4 linked regions of the Homo sapiens genome follow. The protein of the gene in region 3 interacts with the protein of the main gene of each other region in a pairwise test. Each region holds a gene or a part of one and is shown on either strand. Other genes may lie near its edges. The genes, in order: GAD2, UBIAD1, MRM3 and GALNT2.

Region 1 (7,150 bases), on a different chromosome or scaffold from region 3:
TCTTTCCTAGCCCCTCTTTAGTCTTTGTGCTTTGTGACCTGCTGAGCAGTAAGGAATGCTCTGTATTTCTCTGGTTCCCAGTGTAGGTGACATCACAAAAGCAGATTTCTTCTAGGAGTCCTAAAGGACTTTCCATGAAGCATGAAGGCTTTGGATATTATTGATGGAGCTATGACACAGTATGTTTTAAGTCACAGACCTAACTCTTCACATTGAGTCCCAGGGAATGAGACTTTTAGATCCCAGATGCATAAGATGTGTGGCTTTCTCTATCCCCACCCCTTAAATTGTAAGACCCTTTACTGCAGGAGCAAGGCTGGTTGCTCCCGGGAATAGCATCCATAGCCAGTAAGGATGTGATGAGCCACTTCTCGTCTGTGATGTCTTGTAGAAAGTAGAGCAGAAACAGGTTGCAATGACCTTTTCTGCTGTCTCCTCCCAACTTTGCAATGTCTGCACTGCACTGTAGTGTGACATCTATGGCTTGCATCTTGGCGTAAGAGCAAATGGGTCTTTAGGCTCCAAGGAAGCCTATAATTCCCATGCTCAAGCTGAAGTCTTCTCCATGTGAAAATCCCCCATTATCAGTGAGGGTGGAGGGTAAGCTCTAAGCCTAGCAGAACTGCCTAAGAGAATTATTTCTCTGGGTGTATGTTTTCTGGGGCATGTAGGTTTTTCAGACCAGCCAGGTAAATTAGGCCTAGCTGTTAGTCAAATTAGTCAAATTTTCAGGGTCAACAGGTACATCTGTCCTCTCCCTACTCCCGGGGACCATTAAAACTTATGCACGGGAATAAATTCAGCATAAAATAAATGCAAATAAAAGAAAAAAAAATAGAGCCCAGCATGTTCTTGATTCATCTCAGGGACAGATCAATCCTATAACCAACCACACAAGGGTGGGAAGAAGAAAGGTAGAAATGATGTGGATCTCTGTACCCCACCTCATTCCTCATGAACAATGTTTTCAAAGCATCAGGCAATGATGACCAAGCTCCCTCAACAGGGATGGCTTTCCAAAGGAAAACTAAGTACTAAGTGCCATAAAAAATAAAGGCTAGCTTAAAATTCATCACAGCTGGTGTTCAATGACTTTTTAAAAGGCTAATTTTCCCTTCCATTTAACTAACACCTTTTCCTTCAGCACCTGAAAAATTGTGCTATATATTTAAACACATAAAATAGCTGACCAGAGCTTGCAGGCAAACATGCTTAACTTAAGCCCTGGCCTTGGGGTCACTCTTGCTTATCATTTCTTCTTTTCACTTTTTCTTTTCTCCCCTATCCCCGCCTCATCATTTGCTTGTCTTTGTAGATTTGCTGAAGAGAGAGCACAACCACTTGGCCTTTGCTCTGTCTGACACAACGACAGGTGTTGCTCTGGCCTCTCTCTCAGGTGGGTCCTGTCTCAGTGGACTAATGACATCCGCTCCTGCCACTGATTAGCTGATGGTCTGCACATCGGGTTTCTTTTCCATGGGTCAGTGACTCTCTTTGCATTGCCTTCCTAACTTCTATTTCTTTTCTGCATCAAACCAAGGTCACACACAGAACTGTAAACCAAGGGCACAGCTTTTTGTTTCAGGTTGATTCTCTTGGCTGGAAGAGGTCTAAGTAATGGAGCTTAGAATTCAATGGCTGGTGATAAAAAGGCAGGATGGAAAAGACTGAATGGCATGATAAAGAAGAGAAGGGATGAGAAATCTCTTGAAGAAATCGTCACCCTCTATTTTTGCTCTAAGAAATTCTCTCCCAAAGCGTTCTCTGTCCTCCTTGAAATTAGTGTAAATCCACTTTGGTGCTTGTTATTTCAAAGACAGAGTGGTCCATATGCTCTACTGAGTAGATATACCTTGCTATGCACCCTTGAACAGCAAATGCTTTATTAAATGAGGCTACCCATTTCCTTTCACTAATTCTAGGAAGAGCATCAGAGAGTGAATTTCCTGATTAGGAATCTTGATTCCTTTGTTCCACATTATCCGTACATCCTGTTTGTAGGGTCACAGTAGAAGCACTGGGTAAGTACCATCTCTGATTATGCTCACTTTGCACACAAATAACTGATGTTCAAGCATGGGTTACTTAGCTTGGAGGCATGTTCAATGGTCATGTGCACTTAATCACAGTCATTCTTTTGATCAACACACAGTCTATTTAACCTAAGCAGAGGCATAGGCTAGATTTTTAATCTTCCCTAGGTTTACAACAAGGCATTGCATATTAGAAGAAAAAACACAAAGAAAGTTGAAATATCATGTACCGGGAGAAAATATCCCATCGCCAGAGCCCCCTGGCCAGCCAATGATTTCTCTCATTTTCTTTAGTGTGACATATTCCAAAAGCACAAATACTGGAGCAATTTCATAGGTGAACCTGAAATGTAGTAATGGCCACATTTTACCTCTGTAACTCAGATAAATAATTTACAATCATTACAATAGCTACAGAACTATTTCCTTTTTCAAAACATACATTTACAAGTGTTATGATTATAACATTAAGCAGAGAGAAAATTATTTCAAAAAGGCCTTCCAAAATGTTTATTTTTTCTATATCCCTACAGTCAAGAGCTCCAACTACTGACATAATGCACGAGGGGAATTTATTGTATTGAATAAATAAAAAATATTGCAGAGTAACATGATTTAAAATATAATATCTGGTCCCATTTGTCTTTGACATTATGCACAATAATAAATCAAACGTGAGAAAAAAGTCTCTTTTGTATTTTAAAAATTTTGTAGAGTTTGATTACATGGAAGATGTATCAGGACTACTTTCTGTTACATTAAAGTGAACACTCACACTTCAGAAGTTTGTATCACTATTTTAGTGGCTACTTAATAAAAAACAGATTTTCACATAAGATGTAAAGACTATGGAATGTCACTAATAATTATCCTAAATTACATAAAAACACATTTGGCTACTTACATGTTAGTATTTGCTGTTGATGTCAGCCAGTCTGCTGCTAATCCAACCATATCCAAACCAGTAGAAAGTTGATTGAAGTATCTAGGATGCCCTGAATAAAATGGAATACCAGAATCAGGATTGCCTCCAGTGAAAATAAATGCCTCTCAAACACATGATTTCTCTAGCTAAAGGACCTTGAAAGATCTGTCAGTAACAGGAAATCCATAAGTAGAAATCCAACATGTACACACGTGTGTATGCACAAGAACACACACACACACACACATGCACATACACACACACACACACCATAAAAGCGTTTCCTCTAACCACGAAGACTACTTTAGGTTTTGATATTTCTTAAAACATACCCTACAAATCTTCCTTTAATCGGACCCTATAAATATAACAAATATGGTTTGCAATCTGCATGAGTCTCTTTTCTATTTTCAATATTTTCGCAAGCTAAAATGCTACTGCAACCCACAGCCATTCAGACAGGTAACTTCTCCTTTATACTCATGCTGCTAGAAGTCCTTTTTTGTAGTCGTTCTGAGAATCGGTCATACCATGACATCCGCCAGGCATGCCAACATTCATAATAATATCAGTGACAAATGGCTGATGATTACAAAAGACAGGGCAAAAATGAGAAAATAGGACACTCTGCTGAATGATTTGCCCTGGATTCAAAAGGTGATGATTGTCTAAAGATGGCATGGACAAAGCTAATTCTTGTCAATTCTTCTTTGTTAATTATAAACAACAGCGCTCCTCCATAGTTGTGATTTAAAATAAGGCCACATACAGTCAACATCACTGTTTTATCAACAAGATACAGAAAGATATACTCAATCGACTGATTAGTCCATCGCAAGGCTTATCTAATTAACTTCTAGATTCCTCTAAAACTCTCTAAATGGATTGACATCCACACTCTCCTGAGGCTATTATTTAAAATGTGATTATAAATATGTCATTAGCATTCAGTTTTCTCCTCTTGCTCCACAAAAGCCTGTCATCGATAGGTCCGTGATTTGCACAGCAGCAAAAATTTTAGAAGATGGGCCATTGTGGAAATAGCATCTGATAAAAAGGTATCTTCCACATCCTGGACATCTGTCTGAAGCCTGGGATGTGATTGTCTCTCATCTCCAGCACAGGCAAAACAAGATAAAGGAAGGCAATGGGGAAGAGCAGGGACAAAAGTCAATGGCTAGCTTATCTCCTGCACTGGAGTGCTCTCTTATCAGCCTCAGGCATGTGGCCAGACAGACACTGGGTAAAGATATAAGCTGGGAGGGAGCCCATTTTAGCGGGATCAGGACTTGTGTATCTATTGTACATTCTCCAGCATTGTTTTATGTCCTTGTGGCCTCGTGTGGTACCCCTCTATCTCTGATGCTGACCCCCTCAGTTTACCCATCCACGAAGGGTGAGAAGGCTTTTTTGCTGCTGTGGCCACTGAGGTCTGGAGCAACCCTTCACTCCTCTCTGCCTCATTGACTCCCCATTTCATTATGCTCGCAGCTGAAATCACAGCCATTTCCTCCCTCCCGATGCTCCTTCATTTCTCTTTCCCTAACCCTTTTTTTTTCAAGTGAGGAAATTAATAAGGATTATAATTCATATTCATTTTCTGGATGAATGTGGTGTCTATGATTAGACAGTATTTAACTCTAGGGAAACTTGGGAATGAAAACCTGTGCATAAGATGGAGAGAGATTGTGAGGGGTGTGTTGTGCCTCTGGATATCAGAAGGCCAATTCACCCTGATGATAACTTTCCGTAAACAGTGAAAACAGGTTTGACGCTTTCATTGCTAGGTTTCCCTTCCTCCCTATATATATTTTGACCTTGCTCTGCCATTTCACCTGAATCTCTCCTGCCTCAAAAATTTCATTCCCTGATGATGATGTGAAAATAGGGAGGGAGATAGTTTGACAGGTCAGATCAACAGGCTCTCTCGATTTCTGGCAGAAATATTCCCCTAGTGACATTTGCTCCCATCCTGTGGCCCCTACAGGCTGCTTCCTAGGGCTGCCCAGCAAATCAAGGCAGGGCTCTCTCCAAGGAATTGTGAGACCTGCCCCCATAGGTCAGGTGTCCCTGCAGCCCTTGGCCTCCTGCTGCTGTCGCCACCCTGCCAGGCCCTGTGATGGGAGCAGAGCGCACTGCGTCAGCCATTGGGTGGCCACACAGCCTATGCAGCCAGGAAGGTGGCGAGCTTGAGATGTGAGAACTGGCTGCTCAGACTCAGGGATGCTCCCTGCAGACTAGCAAATGAGCCCGGAAGGATGCGCAGACTCTGCGAACAACCAGCCTCAGGCAACTCTGACCCTGTGCTCATGATCAGTTGGGAAGAGGCCAAAAGTCGGTCCAAACTGCTCTTTATGTCCTGGCAACACTCACACTAGGGCTGCCTCATCTACTGACGCTTAATTCCCTTTGTCTGATGGTTTGGTAAAAGATTCAGGACCACATTTAAGTCCTACTCTTCCCCAGCCAGCACCACCACCACTAGCACCAAATCTAATGATCTCTGCAAATGCAAATTATTCTGGAATTCTATCATTCTCTGCTCAGTTTTCCGTGTTCCAACATTTCTTTTTACAGAGGTAATTTTAACAATCCATGAAGACTTCATTTTCCCACTGCCCTTCACTCCTCTCTAAGCTTGGAGCCCAAGTGGAAATCAGGTTAAGGTCTCTCAGTAGAAACAAGATGATAATATGCATTTTATAAAATAATCTCTTGAGGAGTATTAAAATGTCTGGTAGTAGCAAGGATGGTAACTAATTTGACATACCCTAAATAGCATTAGATGACAAGTATGACAGTTATAGCACAGAAATCTATAAAGTTGCCAGCTGAATAGAGAAAATGACTGCTGTTAATTTTTTGAAATGCTATTTGAAGGAAAAGGCCAGCAGACTAAATATGTTATGAAAACTATTGAGAGATTGAATTGATATGCCTTGCTTAGAAATCCAACTTAATCCATCACATTTTTATCTGAACTTTAAATAAAATGCATTACAGTGACACCTAACAGTTTCATAAGCATTATGGCAAAATGTAAGTATTGAATTAGCCCATCTTTTCCTGGCACTAAATGCAACGTTGATAGACAGAACTATTACTTTCATTGACTTGCAGTTCCCATTATCTTAACTCTGTAGACTGCATTTCAGGCACCACTAGCTTTCAAGGATGAAGACACAAAACATTTCCATAGGTTCTTTTTGGTTTGGTAGCAATACAAACAATAGGTGGCAATTTACTATTAACGTATCTAAATATAAGGTATGGGGAATGGGTCAAAAAATGAATTAAAAGCATCACCCAGGATTGCACTATGAATGCAGGAAAAGCTGAGGAGGGGTAGGAAAATTTTTAATGCCTGGTATAAACATCACGTGGGTTCTTCATGAACGTTAATTGAGGATGATGTCTAATACACCTTCAAAACTCCTATTCCATAGCCTGACTTTGATAGAAATCTATGTCCCAAGGCTTTTTGTATGCCTACCTTTCTTCTCTGTTGGTACAAATAATGTGAACAAAAAGAAAAAAAGAACTAAACTTCTCACAGCAAACATTTTAAGAATGTTTGTTATTGATTAGCGTAATACTGCTAATTCATCAGCAAAATGTTTGCAATCTAAAAAGATGACGTTTCTATGGTGATGAATGTTCATGTCATATTTCACATTTTTTATTTGCTAGCAAATCTTTTAAAGGCTACACATCAACTTCGATCCACAAAGTCCTCCCCACCCCTGGAAATTCATTCATACTTATTTTTATTGCCGTAATGAAGTGTCAGCCATCGTGTATCAGGATGATTAGAGACAACGTAAAAAGCGAGGGTAATCAAGACCTGGGCAGATGAATGGCTGACTTTGTGTAGATAACATGAAAGCTCGGAATGCACCCAAATAAATGTTATAAATGAAGCTGTAATATGGATGGAATATAAAGACTCCTGTGAAAAGCCAAGAGACCACAAAAGTACATTTAAAAAAATTTCCCCCTAAGGATATCTGATTTGCCCCTCCCCCCCTTTTTCTTTATCTCACATATACAGTGGCTGGGAGGAACACACATCCTTATATAACATGGCTGAATTGCTAAGCTAGTCTGTATCATGCCTGCTTGTGTGTTGTGCACATTTCCTTAAAAATAAGTGAAAATCTGAATTCAAATCTGAAAGGTTGGCCATTTGACA
Region 2 (7,961 bases), on a different chromosome or scaffold from region 3:
TGTCTACCTTCAAAGCATATTTAGAATCTGGCTACTTACCTCTTCCACTACCACCCGCTAGATACAAGCCACCAAACATCGCTTGCCTGGATTATTCAAGAGCTTCCTACTTGGTCTTCCTGCCTCTACCCTTGCCCCACTCCCCTTGATCCATTCTCAATACCTTACCCAGAGCAATTCTTTTAAAACATTATATTACATCACTCCCTTGCTCAAAGTCCTGCAGTGGCTCCTCCATTCCAGAGCCAAGACCAGTGGCCTACAAGGTCTATATAATCCGTGTGTGTGCCTCCTTACCCTCCCCAAACGTACTTCTCTTACTTTACCTCTCTTTACTCTCTCCTTCATTCACACACTGGACTTCTTGCTGCTCTGTAAGCTCTTTGGACACATTCCTGCCTGAAGGCCTATGGCACTTGCTGTTGCTTTTCCTGAAATGCTCCTCTCTCAGATATCTGCTTGGCCAACTCCCTCACCTCTTACCTCCTTCAATGTAACTCAACTCAAATACTACCTTTCTGAGGCATGGTCTCACTCTGTCGCCCAGGCTGGAGTGCAGTGGTGTGATCAGGACTCACTGCAGCCTTGACCCCTGGGCTCAAGCAATTCTCCCGCCTCAGCCTCCAAAGTAGCTGGGACCACAGGCAAGCACCACCATGCCCAGCTAATATTTTTTATTTTATATTTTATACAGACAGGGGTCTATGTTGCCCAGGCTGGTGTTTAACTCCTGGCCTCAAGCGATCCTCTCGCTTCAGCCTCCCAAAGGGCTGGGATTACAGACATGAGCCACTGCACTCAGCCAAATGTTACCTTTTTGATGAAGCCTACCCTGATCAAACTACTTAAAATAGTAATCTGTGTCCCATTCTTTGCTCTACTTTTTTTTCCCATAGCACTTATCATCTTTCATATACTATAATCAGGGTGATCAATTCAACCTGACTTACCAGGAACTTTTCTGGTTTTAGCTCCAGAAGTCGCACATCCGACTTAGTCCTGTCACCTTAGTCCTGAGCAAACCAGGATATTGGTCACCCTAACTATAATTTTCTATTTTTACTTTCTGTCTCTTTTCATGATAATACGTAAGTTTCACAAGGGCAGGGATCTGTGACTGCTGTGTTCACACAGAACAGTGCCTGGCACATAATAGGTGCTCAATAAATAGGGCTTACCCACCTGCCCATCACTACCTTAATCAGCCTCTTGCAAGAAGTCACCTAGCAAACTAGCTAGAAGTAATTATCTATATCATTTTGAACTCTTCAGATTTAATTCTAATATTTGAAACTGTGGCATTATAAAGTATGAGTGATTAAAAAAAAAAATGAGACAGAAAAAATGTCCATATAGGCCGGGCATGGTGGCTCACGCCTGTAATCCCAGCACTTTGGGAGGGCAAGACAGGCAGGTCATGAGGTCAGGAGTTCAAGACCAGCCTGGCCAACATGGTGAAACCTTGTCTCTACTAAAAATACAAAAATTAGCCAGGCGTGGTGGCACATGCCTGTAGTCCCAGCTACTCGGGGAGCTGAGGCAGAAGAATCGCTTGAAGCCGGGAGACAGAGGTTGCAGTAAGCCGAGATGGTGCCACTGCACCCTTGCCTGGGCAACAGAGCGAGACTCTGTCTCAAAAAAAATAAAAAAAATTAAAAAATGTCCTGACAGGGCGCGGTGGCTCACGCCTGTAATCTTAGAACTTTGGGAGGCTGAGGCGGGTGGATCACGAGGTCAGGAAATCGAGACCATCCTGGCCAACATGGTGACACCCCGTCTCTAATAAAAATACAAAAATCAGCCAGGCGTGGTGGCGTGCACCTGTAGTCCCAGCTACTCGGGAGGCTGAGGCAGGAGAATCGCTTGAACACGGGAGGCAGAGGCTGCAGTGGGCCGAGATCGCACCACTGCACTCCAGCCTGGGCGACAGAGCGAGACTCCGTCTCAAAAATGAATACATAAAAAATAAATAAAAATAAATGTCCATATAAAATTTTCAGTCATGCCCTACGTCCGTAAGTCAAACCAGGATCTTCTCAAATCACTGTTTCAAAAAATTCACATCACCCACAATTATAGACTTCAATTAAAGCGGCTTAAATTAGAAAGCCACCTTTGACATCCCTATAACTCCTTTACAAAGCAGCGGTTTCCAGTGGACGCGACTAAGACCTGCAGCACACAGGACAGGCCAAATCTTACCTCCTGTGTAGAGAAAGGAGCCAGACAGGCCTCCAAAGTAGATAAGAGCCAAGTGCTCCAGTTTCAGAGGGGACAGGTAGTAGAGGCAAGCGGCACAGACGCAGCCCAACGTGTAGAGGAAGACTCCGAACCGGACGACATCCTGCGGCTCCAAGATTCGGTCCACAAGTGTCCTGTCATCACTCTTTTTGTGGTCAATGCCCTTGGAAAAGTCATAGTAAGTGTTGACCAAATTACCGGCCCCGTGCACAGCCAGGACAGCCACGGCACAACCCACCAAGAGCCTGGGATCCAGGACACCGTGGGATCTGTAGGCAAGGGCACTGCCCAGGGCCACCGGTGTGAGTGAGGCACTGAAGCTCCAGGGCCTCAGGGCCAACACGTAGGAGGCACACTTCTGCCTCCAGGAGCGCTGGGGGAGCCTATCTTGCTCGGGACAGTCGTTCCCCAGCGGGTCCCTGTCCCCAGCTTTGACAGTCTCTCCCGACAGGATGTTAATCTTCTCCCCCAGGACCTGAGAGGCCGCCATGGAAGCTCCACGTGGTTGAAGTAAACTCTAAAAGTGAGCCACGCACAGTGACCGCCCGGGAAGGAGGAAGGACGGGGCGGGGCAGCAGGGCCCGACCTTCCTTCGGTTCCGCCCCAGGACAGGGCTGGTGTGGCGGCAAGGTCCGGGGGCAACAGCAAGTGGGTCTTACACCCCACGAGGCCAAGCGGCGCCGCCCCTACTACCCGTCACCTGGGCGAAGTCTGTCTCCGGCCCCCAGCCCCGCGTTAGAGCCCACGGCTGAGCCGCGGCCGCCTTCTTTAGGCCGCCAGAGCCGCCATCTTGTGCGCCGGCCTCTGGAGGCCCGCCCGGAAACAGGTGCCGGCGGCGCGGGCTGGACCGGAGGGTGGGCTGGAGGGCGGGAGGGGGCGGGGCCGAGCCAGAGGCGGGGAGAAGGGCGGTGAGGGGTGGGGGGCGGGGGCCTGGTCAGAGGCGGGGCGGGCAGGGCCGAGTCAGAGGAGGGGCGGGGTCAGAGGCGGGGAGAAGGGCGGTGAGGGGTGGGGCGGGGCTGAGGGGCGGGGCCAGACCGGTGGTGGGGCGGGAGGGGGCGGGGCCGGGGCGGGAATGGACCGGGAGCGGGGACGGGCCAGGAGCTGGGGCCGGGCGGTGACCCGGCATCCAGCCCTTTTCCTGCCTGCACTGCGCCCCGCAGCTACTTCCAGACTAACTGCAATCAGCCTCTCTTAGCATCATAAGAACTCGAAGGCGTGTTGCTTTAGGACTTACCGGGCGCACTTTCATTCACGAAGTAGGATTCATTAATTTATTCATGCTACAAGCATTTATTGAGCGCCTGCTGTGTGCATACATTCTGACGTCTATCATATCTGCACCGTGGAAATACTCTATGATGTGCTACTGCTCACCTCTTATCAGCTTTTCATTCAGTGACATCCTTCAGCAGCTTGAAATCTGCCCATGGTGGGAGAATTTACACCACGCAAATCAGCAAATGCTTAATAACTGCTAAGTCGTCTAGACTTAAGAAAGTGGCGGAGAAAATGTTCATATTACTGGTTAAACTTAAAAGTGTTGGAGGGTGCGGTGGCTCACGCCTGTAATCCCAGCACTTTGGAAGGCCGAGGCAGGCGGATCACTTGATGTCAGGAGTTCGACATCAGCCTGGCCAACATAGCGAAACCCTGTCTCTACTAAAAATACAAAAATTAGCCGTGCGTGGTGGCAGGCACCTGTAATCCCAGCTACTCGGGAGGCTGGGGCAGGAGAATTGCTTGAACCCGGGAGATGGAGGTTGCAGTGAGCCAAGATCATGCCAATGGGCTCCAGCCTGGGCAACAGAGTGAGACTCCATCTCAAAAAAAAAAAAAAAATTAGCCGGGGGTGGTGGTGCATTCCTGTAATCACAGCTACTCGGGAGGCTGAGGCAGGAGAATTGCTTGAACCCTGGAGGCAGAGGCTGCAGTGAGCCAAGATCACGCCACTGCACTCCAGCCTGGGCAGTAGAGCGAGACTCCGTCTCAAAAAAGAAAAAAAAGAGAGAAAAAAAGTGTGTAAGTGAATGCACCAAAACTTTGAGGAAATATTCGTTCAGCATTGGCAAATTATTATCCAGTTGAACAAATAAGTCGCTTGTAGCCTTGACAAACTAGTGAAGTTCTGACATATCTCTTTTGATTGTTTCACTTTCCTCTTACTCCTAACATAAAATATCAACCAACATTCATGTCTGAACTATGCTCATTGATCAATTGGGACCATAGGGAAGCTACACAACATCAAAGAAAGCATACTGTGAGAACTGGCTATATGGAGTTTACAATAGAGTCCTGTACTGTATATTTTAGTATTTGTAAACTGTATGCTACACATCATTTACATCAGTGAAATTATAATACACATGCAACATAGATGCACACAGGACTGACTACATAATTTGTGGTACCCAGTGCAAACTAAAGAGGTGGAGCTGGGGGTGATAATGTGTGCCTGTAGTCCCAGCTACTCAGGAGGTTTTTTTGAGACGGAGTCTTGCTCTGTTGCCCAGGCTGGGGTGCAGTGACACAATCTCGGCTCACTGCAAGCTCCGCCTCCAGGGTTCACACCATTCTCCTGCCTCAGCCTCCCGAGTAGCTGTGACTACAGGCGCCCGCCACCACGCCCGGCTAATTATTTTGTATTTTTAGTAGAGACAAGGTTTTACCGTGTCAGCCAGGATGGTCTCTATCTCCTGACCTCGTGATCCGCCTGCCTCAGCCTCCCAAAGTACTGGGATTACAGGTGTGAGCCACCGCACCCGGCGGGAGGATCTCTTGAGCTCAGGTTAGAGACCAGCCTGGGCAACAAAGTGAGATCTCCGCTCTAAAAAATTAAAAAGACCAGATGTGGTGGCTCACACCTGTAATCCCAACACTTTGGGAGGACAAGGCAGGTGGATCGCTTGAGCCCAGGAGAAGACCAGCCTGGACCACACGGTAAAAATCGAAGAATTAGCCAGGTGTGGGCCAGGTGCAGTGGCCCACGCCTGTAATCCCAGCACTTTGGAAGGCCGAGGCGGGCAGATCATGGGGTCAGGAGATAAGACCATTCTGGCTAACATGGTGAAACACCATGTCTACTAAAAATACAAAAAAATTAGCCAGGCGTGGTGGCAGGCACCTGTAGTCCCAGCTACTTGGGAGGCTGAGGCAAGAGAATGGCATGAACCCCGGAGGCGGAGCTTGCAGTGAGCCGAGATCGTGCCACTGCACTCCAGCCTGGGCGACAGAGCAAGACTCCATCTCAAAAAAAAAAAAAAAGAAAAAGAAAAAGTAAAAGAATTAGCCAGGCGTGGCAGTGTGCACCCGTGGTCCCAGCTACTTGGGAGGCTGAGGCGGAAGAATCACCTGAGCCTGGGAAGTTGAGGCTGCAGTGAGTCATGATTGTGCCCCTGCACTCCAGCCTGGGTAATAGAGTGAGATCCTATCTCAAAAAAATAAAATAAAATCAATAAATAAGTGGGGCCAGGCCAGGCACGGTGGCTCACGCCTGTAATTCCAGCACTTTGGGAGGCCAAGGTGGTCAGATGACCTGAGGTTGGGAGTTCAAGACCAGCCTGACCAACATGGAGAAACCCCGTCTCTACTAAAAATACAAAATCATCCGGGAGTGGTGGCGCATGCCTGTAATCCCAGCTACTCAGGAGGCTGAGGCAGGAGAATCACTTGAACCCGGGAGGTGGAGGTTGCGGTGAGCCGAGATCGTGCCATTGCACTCCAGCCTGGACAATAAGAGCAAAACTCCATCTCAAAAAAAATAATTAATTAATTTAAAAAATAAAAAAAATAAGTGGGGCCTCTTGTTCAAAATCATTAACAATTGCAAAACAGAGCATGACACAGCTGTGAAGCTAGCTCTGTACATGTCTGCTTCCACTTACCCCCAATCTGGTTGTTGAACATTACAACTTCACCACTCAACACAGAGCTTTCTATGCTGGCCAAACCCATGAGTCATACAATGTCAAATCAGACAATATATCAGCAGATAGATTAAAATCCTGGCTCTATCACTTACCAATTCCATGTCCCAATATCTCTGTTCTTTGGCTTACTTATATATAAGGTGGGAACAATACAACCTGCCTCATAGAAATGCTCAGGAATAATAGTAAACAGCATTTATTGACTTTTCACATGAGCCATATACTTTGTTTGCTTTTGAGACGGAGTCTTGCTCTGTCGCCCAGGCTGGAGTGCAGTGGTGCGATCTCGGCTCACTGTAACCTCCACCTCCCAGGTTCAAGTGATTCTCCTCCTCAGCCTCCTGAGTAACTGGGATTACAGGCGTCTGCCACCATGCTCAGCTAATTTTTATATTTTTAGTAGAGATAGGGTTTTACCAAGCTGATCTCGAACTCCTGACCTCAGGTGATCCACCTGCCTTGGCCTCCCAAAGTGCTGGGATTACAGGTGTGAGCCACCATGCTGGGCCAAGTACCTCTTTTAGGTACTTTACGTGTGGTATTAGCGTTTAACCCCCACAATACTGCCTACCAACGAAGAGACTATAATCCTTCCAGTTTTACACATAAGGAAATAGGTACAAAGTGTTGCAGCCAAATTTCAGATTCAGTTAGTTTGACTTGACTCCAAGCTGCTTTTAACAAGTACTCTATAATGTCCACCAAAATCCCTGATACACTGTAAGTGCTCAATAAATATTAGCTATTATTTTAGTGTAATGCATAAGAAAGTTCTTTGTAGTGGGAGTTGAACAATGAGAACACATGGACACGGGGAGGGGAACATCACACACCGGGGCCTGTTGGGGGTTGGGGGGCTGGGGGAGGGATAGCGTTAGGAGAAATACCTAATGTAAATGACAAGTTGATGGGTGCAGCAAACCAACACGGCACATGTATACCTATGTAACAAATCTGCACGTTGTGCACATGTACCCTAGAACTTGAAGTATAATAATAAAATAAAAAGACTTGCAAAAATACAATAAAAAAGAAAGTTCTTTGTAAACAGAAAAGAAACCGACAAACGCACTTATTACTGTTGCTATAAAATCATCTTTGATTATTAATTAGAAAACAGGGCTGTATCATATCTCAGGGTGGCAAAAATCTCCTATATGGCTGATGGGAATAAAAATTGGTACCTCCCTTATAGAGATCAACTTGACAAGATTCAACAAAACTGTCTAACCCTGTAATCCCATTTCTGGGAATTTATCTTGATATAGCTGTCAGGGAAGAAAATGATATACGTACAAAGGCATTCACTGCAGCATTTGTAATAGCACAAATTTGGACATAACACAAATGTCCATTCACAGAGGACTGGAAAATGAACTATGGCACAGCCATGTGATAGAACACTATGCAGCTGTAGCAACAACAAAAGGACAAGAAACTCTGTGTGTACCAAGATGGAAATGAAACCGTCCCAACAAACTTTATAAAATTAATCAGGGGCCAGGTGCGGTGGCTCACACCTGTAATCCCAGCACTTTGGGAGGCCAAGGCAGGCTGATCACTTGAGGTCAGGAGTTCGAGACCAGCCTGGCCAACATTGTGAAACCCCGTCTCTACTAAAAATACAAAAATTAGGCTGGACACAGTGGCTCACACCTGTAATCCTAGCACTTTGCGAGGCTGAGGCAGGCAGATTACCTGAGGTCAGGAGTTCAAGACCAGCCTGGCCAACATGGTGAAACTTTGTCTTTACTAAAAATACAAAAAATTAGCCGGGTACAGTGGGGTGCG
Region 3 (7,150 bases):
TTCTGGGCACAAAGTGCTTCTTGGTGGACAATTTTTAAAAACACACAGAGCCACGTGGGTCACCTATTGTCACCAAGAGAAAAAAGAACCTCAAAATCAGTGACGCGACAGGAAGAATTCGGACCTGTTCTTTCTGAGGAAGTTCTTATTTTTCCTGTAACTGTATGACGGCATCACACCTTCCTCCTGAACGTGGGGGCCATAGTCACTGACTCCGCCAGCCTCCCACCAGTGTGCTGGTGTAGGAGGAGCTGCAGACGTCCTCAAGCAGAAGTCACTTCTGCGTCCTCAGTGGTAACTCCTGTCCCTGCTCAAGTCCTCCGCCCTCCCCCGCAGCTGTCTTTTCCCTTCGAAAAGCAGGATGCTTGCCGCCATGGCCGAGTTGAGGCTGTCCACACCAGGCACAACGGGGATCAGCAGCCTCTTGCCACCAGTGCTCTCGGCCAGCTGCAGGGACTCCAGGCTCACGCCGTAGGTCTCCCCGCCAATCACCACAGCTGCCGGCGCCTCTGTCCAGTCCGAGTCGTAACTCTGAACCTCAACATGAGGCAGCCAATCTTGACTGGCTCCGGTTTCTACATCTTCCTCTTCCTCATACTTGTGAAACTTCATCACTCGTTGATCACACACCCAGCCATGGTCACTAGCTTTATTAGACATCTCAGCCTGGGCATAAAGGCCACAGTTGTCAGCCACATAGACCCGAGTGTCAGGGGGCAGGTAATTGGGCACGGTTTCCCATTCCAGATTATTGATAATGGGCATCCGGAAATGTGCGCCCATACCCGCCCGGAGCACTTTGGGCTCCCAGGCATCCACACAGCCTGGAAAATAAAAAGGAAACAATCAAGATGTTACAAATCTTCCCAGACCAGGGGACTGTGGAGTAAGTCTGATCAATTTTGGATCAGGAGATAAACCAGTTCTTCTATGATAGCTTTCTTGAGGGATGGGACCTTCTGCCTCTCTCTGACAGCATCCAGCACAGCGACTATAGGAGTCACTCCTGCTAGTGCTGAAGATATTTTATGCATCCCTTCAACATCTCCCATTCACACGTGCCAGACACTGCGCAGAAGATGCAAAGATAATGAAAGTCCCCAACCCCAAGGAACGCACAGTGTAGTGGGGTGGTATTAAACAGATGGCTACAGTATCAGTAACTGATGTAAAAGAAGCACCCACACAGTCATAGAAAACCCACGGACAAAGCAGGGCGATGAGGAAAACCATCTAAAAGACCACCACACTGAGATAAAGGCCCAGGCAGAGGACAGAGCTAGGAGAGGAAGCGGGAGAGTGGCGCAGCCTAAGGACTGCAAGCATGGTGAGCCGGCCAATCAGCGGTGGCGCTGTGGCGGCACAGGAGGTGAGCCAGCCAATCAGCCGGTGGGGGTGTGGTGGCACAGTTGAGGTGGCCAATCAGCGGGTGGGGGGGGGGTGTGGTGGCACAGGAGGTGAGCTGGCCAATCAGCGGGTGGGGGTGTGGTGGCACAGGTGAGCCTGCCAATCACTGGTGGTGCTGTGGCGGCACAGGGGGTGAGCCGGCCAATCAGCGGTGGCGCTGTGGCGGCACAGGAGGTGAGCCAGCCAATCAGCCGGTGGGGGTGTGGTGGCACAGTTGAGGTGGCCAATCAGCGGGTGGGGGGGTGTGGTGGCACAGGAGGTGAGCTGGCCAATCAGCGGGTGGGGGTGTGGTGGCACAGGTGAGCCTGCCAATCACTGGTGGTGCTGTGGCGGCACAGGGGGTGAGCCGGCCAATCAGCGGTGGCGCTGTGGCGGCACAGGAGGTGAGCCAGCCAATCAGCGGGTGGGGGTGTGGTGGCACAGGCAGTGAGCCGGTCAATCAGCGCTGGGGCTGTAGTGGCACAGGAGGTGGGAGGTGGGCAGGCCAACACGGAGGAGGCCTCCTATGGGAAGCTGAGGAGTTTGGCATTTTATCAGAAGACAGTATCATGCCATTGAGGGATCTTAAGCAAAGCAGTGACAGAATCAGATCTATAGTTTCATCAAGACCCATTGGGCTTCAACGTTCAGTCTGCACCGGAGCAGGGAACACTCTAGAGATGAGGCAATGAGGCAAGAGGCAACCCCGGCAGCAGCCTGCGACGCCTGGCCTTTCCCAGGGGCGGCTCCTCACCACGGGCGGGCTGGGAGAGTGGCCGAGGGTGGGGCCTCGCAGTGACTGCATGGCCTCCCACCCTCCCCCGCACAGCTTGTTAGCGCAAGTCTTCTCCTGACGAGTTATTTTAGAAGTTCATTTGTCAAACCTCGGGATAGACGAACCAGGCAAACCAGATTTTAAACGGAGAATAAGACACAGAGGATGTAACAGCGCCTGCACCCCCAGCCACGGGCTTTCCCTCTCCCTGCAGGAAACCAGAGATAGGCCCAGGCGTGTGAGAGGAGCGGCCGAGGCTGACCCCTCTGCCTGGAGGGGAGAAGGGAAAGGGGAAAGGCGAGACTCCTCCCGTCATCCTCATGTCCTGGATACTGGGCACCACACCAAGTATTTCCTACCTTCTTTCCCTATTTCTTACACCCCAGCCATCAGTATCAATGTGAAAACCACAATGCTTGGATTATTTAGATTTATTTCCAAATCCCACAACAGCTATCAGAGCACTAAATAATGGGGCGAGTAAGCGGGTACTGATCACAGAACCCCAGCACGTAGCTCTCACACTGGCACAGAAACGTATTCTAGCAAGGCGTGACTGAGAAAGAGCTGCGAGCAGCAATTTAGGCAAGTCTCAACAACGGGTGCCACTATTAGTTTACTTTTAATGGTGGCTGGGGTGTTTCTGATGAATGGTACTCTCTGTCCCCTCCACCTCCCAAGGTGTAAGAGACATTTTAGGCGTGCTCCAACTGTGAGGAAAGTCTGTTTAGAGCCAAGCCTATTAATCCCTATTTCTGATGAGAAGAGACAGAAATGTAATGAGGCGAATTTGTGTGCGGGGCATGTGACCCACGCTGAGGCTAAGGGAATCTAAGGGAAACGGATCACAATGACATTAGGATTCAGAGCTGCTGACGTCATTCCTTTCATAGGATTCAGAAGTCAAGACTCAGGAGTGGCTCATATACTCAGCAATTTGGGAACTCAATATCATTACATAAAGAACCAGAAACCAAGTGTTAAAATTGGCATCTATTTCTTTTCCATAATCGATGTGAAGTTCTCTAACAGCCTAGCAGGTTTCATGATAATTTTAAAAGATAATAAACATGGCTGGGTATGGCGGCTAATGCCTATAATCTCAGCACTTTGACAGGCCGAGGCAGGAGGATCCCTTGAGCTTAGGAGTTCCAGATTAGCCTGGGCAACACAGCAAGACCCCGTCTCTACAAAAAACATAATTTTTAAAAAAGAGAATCAACATTGACTGAATTACTCGTGAGGCAGGTAAGGTATGAAGTAACTTCTGTGCATCATCTCACTTAATCCTCACAGTGACCAGGGAGATTCTGTTATTCCTCCCAGTTCACCAACGAGGAAGCTGACACTTCAGGGACTACTGCTCAGGGACCACAGCTAGTGAAGGCAGACCCATCCAAAGCCGTGTCTGCCTGCCCAGAGCCCTAGCTCACCTAACAATGGTCGACTTGGCTGGGCGTGGTTATTCATGCCTGTCATTCCAGCTACTGCTCAGGGACCACAGCTAGTGAAGGCAGACCCAAGATCCAATGCATGTCTGCCTGCCCAGAGCCATAGCTCACCTAACAGTGATTGACTTGGCTGGGCATAGTTGTTCATGCCTATAATTCCAGCACTTTGGGAGACTGAGGCAGGAGGACTGCTTGAGTCAGAGCCAGTTCAACACCAGCCTGGGCAACATAGTGAGACCCCATCTCTTTAATAAAAAAAAAAAAAAAAAAAAAGACCAGACCAACTAATCCACCTGGTTTATTATTTTTTTGAGAGGGAGTCTCACTCTGTCGCCCAGGCTGGAGTGCAGTGATGAGCTCACTTGACATGTGATGAGCTTTGACATCCCAGGCTCAAGCAATCCTCCCACCTCAGCCTCCCAAGTTGCTGGGACTGAGTACAGGCACACCCCACCACACCCAGCTAATTGTAGTTTTTTTTGTAGAGATGAGGTCTCACTATGTTGCCCAGGATGGTCCTGAACTCCTGGGCTCAAGTGACCCTCCTGCCTCGGCCTCCCAAAGGGCTGGATTACGAGTGTGAGCCACTATGCCTGGCCTTTGATGTCCTTACCTTTGGTGAGTAACACTTTGCTGCAGCCTGCCCCAGCTGCAGATCTCAGAATTGTCCCCAGGTTCCCAGGGTCACGGAGATTGTCACAAATCAATAATAAAGGCAGTGAATGCTGAAGCTGAGTCTTTGGATATGTCATCTTAACATGGTCAGGCTTGGCAAAAATCCCTGAGGAAACAAAACAGGTGGTTTACTTGCCTGGTGTGGGCACGGGGAATAGTCTGACTTTTCATTTACTTATCAATCTTGATATGGTCTTAGTTACATAAAAATACAGGAATACAGGCCAGGTGTACTGGCTCATGCCTGTAATCCCAACACTTCGGGAGGCCAAGGCGGGTGGATCACCTGAGGTCAGGAGTCCGAGACCAGCCTGGCCAACGTGGCAAAACCTCGTCTCTACTAAAAACACAAAGATTAGCCAGGCGTGGTGGCGCATGCCTCTAGTCCCAGCTACCTGGGAGGCTGAGGCAGGAGAATCGCTTGAATCTGGGAGGTGGAGGTTGTGGTGAGCCAAGATCACGCCACTGCACTCCAGCCTGGGCGACACAGTGAGACTCCCTCTCAAAAAGAAAAAAAAGGAAAAAAAAAACCACGAATACATTCTGATTGGCAAAATTCAAACAACATAAAATTCTACCAGTACCACTCTCCTCCCCCTCAACTGTTCTGTTTTGGAGTGTATCCTTTTAGAACTTGTTCTATGCATCTACCTATATATATGCACACCTGTCCATATGTAAATGTGTTTTACATTCCGTGTCATACTCTGTATTATTCTGTAATCGACTTATTTACGCAACAATATATCTTGAACTTACCATGTCAATATGTTTGAAGCTACTTTTTTCCTTTAACTGCTGTAGGCTATTTTTTTTTGAGACAGAGTCCCACTCTCTCACTCTGTTGCCCAGGCTGGAGTACAATGGTGTAATGCTGGCTCACTGCAACCTCTGCCTCCCGGGTTTAAGCAATTCTCCTGCCTCTCAGCCTCCCAAGTAGCTGGGATTACAGGCACCCGCAACCACACCCGGCTAATTTTTTGTATTTTTAATAGAGACGGGATTTTGCCATGTTGGCCAGGCTGGTCTCGAACTCCTGACCTCAGGTGATCCACCCTCCTCGGCCTCCCAAAGTGCTGGGATTACAGTTGTGAGCCACCATGCCCAGCCTCTATTTTGTAGTATGAATGTACCACAGTTCATTTAGCTCTTCCCCTATGGACTGTTAAATTATTTGAATTTTTCCCTGTTACAAATGCTGCTGCAATGGGTATCCCTGTAGGACTGTCTGTCCATGTGTCTAAAAATTTCTCTAGCATAAATACCTGTGAGTGAAATGGACAAATGATGTGCGTGCACTATTAACGTTCACACAGGCTCTTTCAGTTTATTCACATCAGGAACTCATAAATACCTGTTTTCGGCTGGGCGCAGTGGCTCATGCCTATAATCCCAGCACTTTGGGAGGCTGAGGTGGGCGGATCACAAGGTCAGGAGTTTGAGACCAGCCTGAACAACATGGTGAAACCCCGTCTCTAATAAAAATACAAAAATTAGGCCAGGCACGGTAGCTCATGCCTGTAATCCCAGCATGTTGGGAGGCTGAGGTGGGCGGATCATGAGGTTAGGAGATCAAGATCATCCTGGCTAATACGGTGAAACCCTGTCTCTACTAAAAATAACAAAAAAATTAGCCGGGCGTGGTGACGGGCGCCTGTAGTCCCAGCTACTCGGGAGGCTGAGGCAGGAGAATGGTGTGAACCCGGGAGGCGGACCTTGCAATGAGCGGAGATCACGCCACTACACTCCCGCCTGGGCGACAGATCGAGACTTCGTCTCAAACAAACAAACAAAAAACAAAAATTAGCCAGGCATGGTGGCGCATGCCTGTAATCCCAGCTACTCAGGAGGCTGAGGCAAGAGAATTGCTTGAACCCAGGAGGTGGAGGTTGCAGTGAGGCAAGATCGCGCCACTGCATTCCGGCCTGGGCAACAGAGACACTATCTCAAAAACAAAAAACAAAACAAAACAAAACCTGTTTTCCAGCTCAAACCCTTCTTAAAAGCGGGTCTATCATTTGTTTCCATTTGTCCCAATGTGATAGAAAAAACAGCATGCCATTATTTTAACTTGCCTTTTCTCTGATTACTAGAGAAGCTAAACACCTTACTGACTGACTGCGATCTTCTTCAGTGAATTCCTGTGCTCCTTTAACTGTCTTGTTTCTACAACCTGTGCCCATCTTCCTACCAGGTAGGCTTTTAAAAAATAGTTTATAGGCTTAAATATTTAAAAAACAATTATTAGCCTGCTATACTGATTTATCTTTCCTTTATCACTCATTTTAAAATTCAAACTACATTCCTAGGAAAAAGAATATGAATTTCAAAACTTGAATGCATCAAAGTAACAACCCCTTTTTCAAATACGCTGGCTCAGAAGCACTGTCTTAGGGACATACTCTGCAAAACGAAGGGGCTGTAGGTGCAGTGAACGCTTGAGTCACTTCCAAGGCCTCACGCTGGAGGTCCAGAAGCCTGGGAGCTTTAGAATGGGTACAGCCACTTACTGGCGACCGCTCTGTCCTCAGTCTAATACAAAGGAGTAAAATGGGGTCTGGGACTATCTGGGAAAATGAAAACCCTAAGTGGCCTTCTTAGTGGAAAATTCTCTCCTTATTTAATGATCTCTACATGATAAAATTATATATACATTATATAATAATCTACATTATATAATCTCTACATTATTAATCTCTAAAGTTTTATGGAAAGAATTTATGGGAAAAGAGAAAAATTGGAAAAAGGCTAATAACAATATTAAAAATGGCTTTGAGTACATGAAATTGCTGTGGTATAGATGAAGTTATTCACATGGGTGTATCACATATCCACAAGTTTCTTTTTGAATCACCATGTTTAC
Region 4 (7,645 bases), on a different chromosome or scaffold from region 3:
GGTATGGACACAAATGTAAATGAAACATAATTTTAAACAATATTTTGAATAAACTGCTTTAACATACATGTCCTGAGCCTGGGTGTTGAGTCCCGAGTTGTGCGGCAGTGCCTGAGATTGGTCTTCAGCACTCCCTCCTGCTTAGTTTACTAAACCTGCAATCTGAGGTGAGCTGGCTCTCTGGGTTTTGCCAAGTGGAGAATAACAGTTCTGTGATGAGTTACTTAACAGGCAGGGCACACAATGACAAGCCTGGGCTGGGCTGCTGAAGCAGCAGAAATCCTAGTTGGACTCCCCTCAGACGATCCCTAAAGCCCAATACTGCAGCCTAGTACCCTATGAAAAACGTCAGGATGTGCAGAAACTGGCTAAATATGGAATAAAAGCCCTGACTTGAACAGTATGAGGCAAGAGAAAAAATATAGGTCCACTTATCTCTAAAAAAACTATAGCTAGCTTTTAAATTCTGCCTTTCTGTGCATGGCCCGCTATCTTTTTTTATGTCCATACTTTACAAGCCAAACAAACCACATTTTTTTTTTGGTATGAGAATGAAATAAATTTAGAGACACTTCTAGTGTCTAAATCCATGGAAACAATTGGGGAAGAAAGAAGACTACACGATTTTCCTATACATCAGGCATTCGTGACAGCAGGGCTCTATTTACCTCCTTCAGAAACCATCTTAAGGCTTCTCTTTAACCCTGGGTCCACCACACGAAGTTAATGAGTCTTCCACTGCAATTTCAAAAGCTATTGCATTTACACACCTCTTCCTCAACCGACAAATCACTAAAGCATCCTAAGGGGTAGCATTAAATTTTATGGTTCGTTGACAGAAAGAATAGAATCCCAAATCACCAATCCATGTGTAATTAATTGTTCATTTCCCCCACTTTTTCTACCTGGTCTCCGTACCTGTCTATATTGCCACCAGGAATTCTTTAAAAAAAACAAAACAAAACAAAACAAAACAAAAAAAAACAAACTAAGAATCACACACTTCAGGAGTGTCTGAAGACTTCTGCATGGAAGACCCCTCACACCATCCAGGAACTGAAGCCCACCAGAGTGAGGAATCAGCCTCCGGGAGGCGAACGAGCACGCTTGCTCTTTCTAATCACGTGTACTAATGAAAGTGGCAGACTAAGGAAAGAGAAACGCCAAGGGTGGCTTATGTGTTTGGTTTTCTTTGCATGAAAGGCAGAAAGCTTTGCCAGGTCTCACCAGCACACCAGGCTATGCAGAGTGGCCAAGGCACAGTTTACCGGGAAGCAAAGTTTTAAAAATCATTCCAGTTTTACACGATTATATCTCTGAATGGACTGCACGGCTTTTGCTGCCTGCATGCTCTTTGCTGTTCAAGAATAAACCAAGTCTTCGCGTACATATACTACCTATACCATTTTTTACAAAAACAACGCTAAGAGTACAATGTCAGCTCAGAAGCTAGGCCGATTCAGCACGTGGAAAGAGGGCTTTATTTCTGCCCTTCTAGATAAAACAAATCCACGTAATTTACCAGAAACCACATAAGGCACCCATTCCACCTAACATCTTCGGCTATGAATGAATGAATGAAGCAAAGAAAAAACCTCTGAAGCAGCCAAACCCCGGCGTGGACATTTAGGGGTCTGACTTCAGAACTGAAGTCTGTTCATCTAGTTAGTTCCCTCTGGCTTGTTTCAGGATACCACTCTCTTGTTCCAACCCAACCACCCGTAGTCCATCTCCATTAACTCAGAATTTTCTGGGTTTGCGGTGACACTAAATGTCACAGTAACGAGGGTTACAGGAATTCGGAAAAGATAACGCTGCTTTCAAAGCCGAGGAGCCAGTAAAACACTACAAACGTCCCCTGCCGGCATGCTCCAGCACACAGCCCGACGCCCTGCTCTCCCGGCCGGCGCTCGGCCGCAGGACCGCGCTGTCCCGGCTCCTCTCGGCGCTCACCATCCTCCCGAATGCCCAGGGCCCGGCCGTCCGGAGCGGCGGCACGAGGACGCGGAACCGCAGAGCGGCTCACACGGTCCCCACAGCCAGATCACTCGGCCCCTGGAGCATGTTAAAAACACAGCCACAGAAGAGGGATTCTCCCTGAAGCGGGGAGTGGGGATGGAAAATGCAAGCGCAGGAGGCCACGTCCGGCTCGCGCGGGAGGGCCGGGGGCCGGGTTGGGCAGAGGGTAACGCTGGGGCCGCAAGGGAACGGCCGGGACTGGCCTCGCTCGGGGCGCAGGGGCGCACTGGCCCCTGGCTCGCACGGGCCCTGGGGCTTTACTTGGCACGGGAGCGGCCGCCCCTGCCCCCCAAAGGTAAAGGGCAAAGAAGGTGGCAGAAACACGGAACCCACGCCCCGCGGAGTGACAGGGGGAAAGGGACGAGGATTTGCAGCCGCTGGTATCAAAGGGCTGAAAAGAAACTTGGACTCCTCTCTCCTGCTGTACATGACGCGTTGGAAAAGCGGTCGCCTCTCTCTCCTCTCCTCCCCACCCCCTTTGTGTTTCCCAACACCCCCATCCCTAAACTTCCAACCGCAGGGGATGGGGCTCCCGGCGGCCGGACAAGACTCGAATTACGACGAGCAGAGAGAGGGGCGACGTCCACGAGAGGGGGCAGAGAAAGGCTGCGGGGGCCGCCCTTTCGGAGCCCGGCGTGCGCAGAGGGGCCGGGTGCACCCCTGCCCTGGGCACTCGGCGCGGAGGCCCGGGACGAGGGCGGGCGACGCGAGCGGAGGTCCGGGCGGAGGAGCGCAGGGGCGGCGCGGAGAGGGCAGGGGACAGGGGCGCAGGGTGGGGGGTGGGCGCAGGGGCCCGGCCGCGGCAGGGCGCTCCACTCACCTTCCTGCCGGCGCCGCCGCCCGCGCCCCCGGCCAGCGCAGAGCCGCCCCCCGAGTACATGTAGTAGGCGATGCCCAGCACCCACAGGAAGGCGAAGCAGAGCAGCATCCGCGAGCGCCGCCGCATTCTCCCAACTCGGCCGCCGGCGGGGCCGCCGCTGCTCGCGAGTGCTGCCTGGGCCGGCCGCGGGCGCGGTGGGGGCCGGGGGAGGAGCGGAGGAAGGGGAAGGGCGCGGCGGCGGCTCCTCCTCCCGCGCGGTGCTACTGCTCGGCGGCGGCGCGCACTCGGCGCCCGAGCTCCGCCCCGGGCCGGCGGCGCCGCGCGGCACCAGAGCAGGAAGCAGCGGCCTCGGAGGCGGCGAGGGGGGTCAGGGAGCAAAGGGCGACCAATCGGCGGCGGCTGCGGGGGCCGGGGCGCGGGCCGCGGGAGGGGACTGCCGCGTCTCCATGGCTGCAGCACGCCGGGCTCCGCCGTGAGGGCCTGGGCGCCGCCCCGCCCCCGGCCGCCCGCCCCTCAGCGTGCTCCCCCCGCCGGCCGCCCCCTCCCCCGTGAGTGACAGGTGGCTGCCCCGGGACCCGACTGGAGCGCGCGCACACGTGGGCAAAGAGCCTTGCTCACGCACACGGGGCCTCTCGATTACGGGGGCGGTAGTGGCCTCGGTGCTTCCTGCCCAGACTGTCACCTCTTCAGCCTTGGTCTTTGGGGCCACCTCAGACCCTTAACGGGCTTGCTCTTATTGGCCAACTGACCTGAGTTTTTGGTGCAAACCGCCCGCTTGAACCCGACTTTGCTGCTGCTTGCTGCAGTTTTCTCACTAATCTTGCAGCAAAACATTCCTGACCCGCTGGTATCGATTTTATTTATCTATATAGGCAGATGTGGAGGTTTTGAGTTGGTAGGAACTGAGAAGGTAATTTTCAAAAGAACATTTTTCTGTGGGTGACAGAGCTATCAATGGTAGAGTTGTTCTTTTCAATAAACACAAAATGAGGAAGAAGGAAAGCAATAATATATTGTTTAAAATCTTTTCTTTCTCATTCGTTGCGTTCTTTAAAAAGCACATTAAGCATCTTTAACGATACAAGAAAACGATCTGTCTTGTAACATAATCTATGTAACCTTGGTGATGCCCTTGCAACACGCAAAGCTTCCAGTGTTCCTAAGAAAGACAGAAATTTTACTTAGAACTTGATATATTAAATGTTTTCAGGAGCTTCTCGGTCAGAGGATAATGGCAGCTGCCTGATATAAGTCCGTACCCATATCCTCAACGAAACAAAAACAAGCCTTCAGCATTACTTAGAGAGAATGCCATGAACTGAACATTAAATTACTTAAGTAGAAGAAAGAAAAGATACCAAATTCCAACTGAGCTCCCTCCACTATTGCCAAGGACTTAAGTGAAGTACAGGGTTGTCACCTCTTTATAAATAGAAAGTCCAACACCAAGAACTAAAAACTGAACAGAGGTCAGGTGCCTTATTGATCAAGGGAAGAGATTTGAAAGAAAATGGGACAAGAGGTGAGAGGCTTGAAGGAGCCTTGTTTCTGGGAAAAAGTCAGATAAATACGAAAAGAAGATAATGTCCTTCAGAGGCCTGACAATGAAGGGAAAGAAGGAAGTCAGAAGGGAAAATTACAAATCCTGCAGAAATGAAAGAGAAGACAGCCAGTCCCCTCCCCAAACACCAACATTATCTATTAAAAACTGCATTTCAGTACACAGATAAAAGAAAACACTCTTGAACCGGGAACCCTGCCTCAAAATGCCTAGTAACAGAAAAACATCAAATCAACTGCATTTAAAGATTCTGCAAAAAGAAAACAGAAATCACATTTCTGATGATAAAAAATAAATCATAACATTTTCGCTGATGAAAACCCCCACAATAAAAACCATGAAGCATAAGAAAATTGTAATACCACATGTCAAACTGAACAAAGTGTCACGTATTTGTATACACATACACACACACACACATATCTAGGATAAGAAATTTCAAGAACTGAAGACAGACTAGACAAAAATTAGGAAGAAATGCAACAAGGGTTGAGCAAATTCAAGAAGGAAATTGAAAGTAATGACAAAAACTATCCCAGAAACAAAGAATAATTACAAGGTGTCCAAGGGAAAATATATTCAAATGAAAATATGTAAAAGGACACTGAAGAATGGCAAGAAAACAATCAAGAAATTGAAAATAATATAAAGATAGAAGTAAAAAGGTTCAGAGAGAAGAGGTTAAAATAAAAGCCAGGAAAGGAAGACCAAAATACATGTTAAGTGGAGTCCCTAAAGTACAAACATTAAACAATAAAACCTAATTAATATTAAAACTATAACCCCAGAAAATAATCCAGGAATAAGGGAAAATTTAAATGTACATGTCAAAAGTGACTTCCATGTACCTTGGGAAATGATCTGGAATTATCAACTCCTAAATATATTTTAGTAAAACGATTAGATTTTAAAGGCAAAAAAGATCAAATTGCTTATAGAGATAAAAATTTATGCTGGCATCAGACTTCTGAACAGCAACATGCAAAGCCAGGCAACAGTGGAGCAGCATTAACAAGGAACAAAAGTGCCAGGCAGGCTGGGCATAGTGGCTCATGCCTGTAATCCCAGCACTTTGGGAGGCCAGAGTGGGTGGATCACCTGAGGTCAGGAGTTCAAGACCAGCCTGGCCAAAGTGGTGAAACCCCATCACTAAAAAAAATATGAAACTTAGCCGGCAGGTGCCTGTAATCGCAGCTACTCGAGAGGCTGAGGTGGAAGAATCATTTGAACCCGGGAGGCAGAGGTTGCAGTGAGCTGAGATCATGCCATTGCACTCCAGCCTGGGTGACAGAGCGAGACTCCATGACACACACACAAAAAAGTACCAGGCAGTGATTTTTATACCCAGCCCTCAAGTGTCAAGGTTGTAGGCAAACAGATATGACCTGAATGCAAAAATTCAGAGAACGTGACTCACATGGGCCTTTCATGAGGAATCTTAGAGAATGAGCTTCCTCCAACCAAGAGACAGCTGAGGAAGCCAGCAGAGTGACTAATGGAGAGCATTTTGTATATTCAGAAGGTGAAAGACTAGTGTATATACATTATACTTTCTGATAAACTTAGAACAGGTGCAACTAAAGACAACTGGAGGAGAAGGGGAAGAGCGAAGGGAAAATAGAATAATATCATTGTCTGCAATATCAGTAGCAGGTAGTAGTGAAAGGATACCATATAAAACAGACAGACCAGATGTTAAAAGGTTAGAAACAAAATATAGGAATTAAGGGTAATATATTAAAAATATAAATAAAAATCACTACAACAAAATATATGTATTCCCAAATATTGGAAACCCTATTCCAAAACCCCAAAAGTTCTAAAAATAGCAAAGAATACATACCAAATAATGAAAGAAACACAGTAAGTGTGGCACAGTGATGCAGTAGTTATAATAGGAAACAATATGACACAGCTGAGACCAACCCACATCAGATATAACAATTTATAAGTGGGCTCAGTTCACCCTTTAAAATAAAAGATTTTCAAATGTAGGCATAACGGAAACCCCAACTCTGAAAAAGCAGGTGCTGTGATTCTGATATCAAACAAAACAGAGTAGGCCAAAAAGCATTAAATGAGATGAAGAGGGACAATTTATAGCCCAAAACTTCCCTTCCTAAACACTTATCAATTGTATATCATTAGGATTTGATCTGCAAAGTAAAATCATTATTAGTTTGATGGAATAAGCGATGTATGATAGAGATTAAACTTTAGACAATGTTAGAGGTAGAAGAAAAAAGGTTATGGAAGTCTTTCCATTGTACATGGGGCAGGTCTGAAGTCACTGTAGTTTCTAGACCTGGGAATCAGAAGAATAGCTAGATGTGACATGGGGCATTTCAAAGACAAAGTCAAAACTGCAAGGACAAAATGTACCTCATGAGAACAACTAGAATTCATGAGGACAAACTGTAATGTACCTCCAGTGTTGATTATGGAAATAAAAAACAAAACACAACAAAAACCCACAGTGAGATACCACTTCATATCCATTAGGATAGCTATTATATAAAATTTTTTTTTTTTTTTTTGGTGGACACTTGCTCTGTCGCCGAGGCTAAAGTGCAGTGGCACAATCTCGGCTCACTGCAACCTCCACCTCCTGGGGTCAAGCCATTCTCCTGCCTCAGACTCCTAAGCAGCTGGGCCTACAGGCATGTACCACCATGCCCTGCTAATTTTTGTATTTCTAGTAGAGACAGGGTTTCACCATATTGGCCAGGCTGGTCGCAAACTCCTGACCTCATGATCCACCTGCCTCAGCCTCCCAAAGTGCTGGGATTACAGGTGTGAGCCACCGCGCCCAGCCTATAAAACATTTTTAAAATAAATAAATAAATAAATAACAAGTGTTGGTGAGGATGTAGAGAAATTGGAACCCTTACGCACTGCTGTTGAAAATGGTATAGTGGTTCCTCAAAAAATTAAATTTAGAACTACTATATGATCCAGCAATTCCATTTCTGGTTGTATACATAAAGGAATTGAAAGCAGCGACTCAAACGGATATTTGTATATCCACATTCATAGCAGTGTTATTTACAGTGGCCAAAGGGTGGGACAACACAAATATCTATCAACAGATAAATGGACAAGCAGAATGTGGTATATCCATGCAATGGAATATTATTCAGCCCTAAAAAAGAAGAAAATTCTAACACATACCAGAACATGGATGAACGTTGAGGACAATATGCTAGATGAAATGAGCGAGACACAAAAAGACAAATACCAAATGA

Evidence for each region.
Region 1: the proteins of MRM3 (region 3) and GAD2 interact in binary tests that used the Homo sapiens proteins (3 or more experiments, as listed by UniProt).
Region 2: the proteins of MRM3 (region 3) and UBIAD1 interact in binary tests that used the Homo sapiens proteins (3 or more experiments, as listed by UniProt).
Region 4: the proteins of MRM3 (region 3) and GALNT2 interact in binary tests that used the Homo sapiens proteins (3 or more experiments, as listed by UniProt).

Annotation. Positions count from the first base shown.
Region 1 is NC_000010.11:26,219,765-26,226,914, reverse strand, and holds part of GAD2 (glutamate decarboxylase 2), read right to left. Parts: intron 3,029-7,150; coding exon 2,938-3,028; intron 2,377-2,937; coding exon 2,264-2,376; intron 1-2,263. UniProt on the Homo sapiens protein: Catalyzes the production of GABA.
Region 2 is NC_000001.11:11,268,302-11,276,262, reverse strand, and holds the start of UBIAD1 (ubiA prenyltransferase domain-containing protein 1), read right to left. Parts: upstream 3,066-7,961; 5' UTR 2,732-3,065; coding exon 2,203-2,731; intron 1-2,202. UniProt on the Homo sapiens protein: Prenyltransferase that mediates the formation of menaquinone-4 (MK-4) and coenzyme Q10. MK-4 is a vitamin K2 isoform present at high concentrations in the brain, kidney and pancreas, and is required for endothelial cell development.
Region 3 is NC_000017.11:785,208-792,357, reverse strand, and holds part of MRM3 (rRNA methyltransferase 3, mitochondrial isoform 1 precursor), read right to left. Parts: intron 6,482-7,150; exon of another isoform or gene 6,463-6,481; intron 4,394-6,462; coding exon 4,226-4,393; intron 825-4,225; coding exon 289-824; 3' UTR 1-288. UniProt on the Homo sapiens protein: S-adenosyl-L-methionine-dependent 2'-O-ribose methyltransferase that catalyzes the formation of 2'-O-methylguanosine at position 1370 (Gm1370) in the 16S mitochondrial large subunit ribosomal RNA (mtLSU rRNA), a conserved modification in the peptidyl transferase domain of the mtLSU rRNA.
Region 4 is NC_000001.11:230,062,601-230,070,245, reverse strand, and holds the start of GALNT2 (polypeptide N-acetylgalactosaminyltransferase 2 precursor), read right to left. Parts: upstream 3,009-7,645; 5' UTR 2,966-3,008; coding exon 2,840-2,965; intron 1-2,839. UniProt on the Homo sapiens protein: Catalyzes the initial reaction in O-linked oligosaccharide biosynthesis, the transfer of an N-acetyl-D-galactosamine residue to a serine or threonine residue on the protein receptor.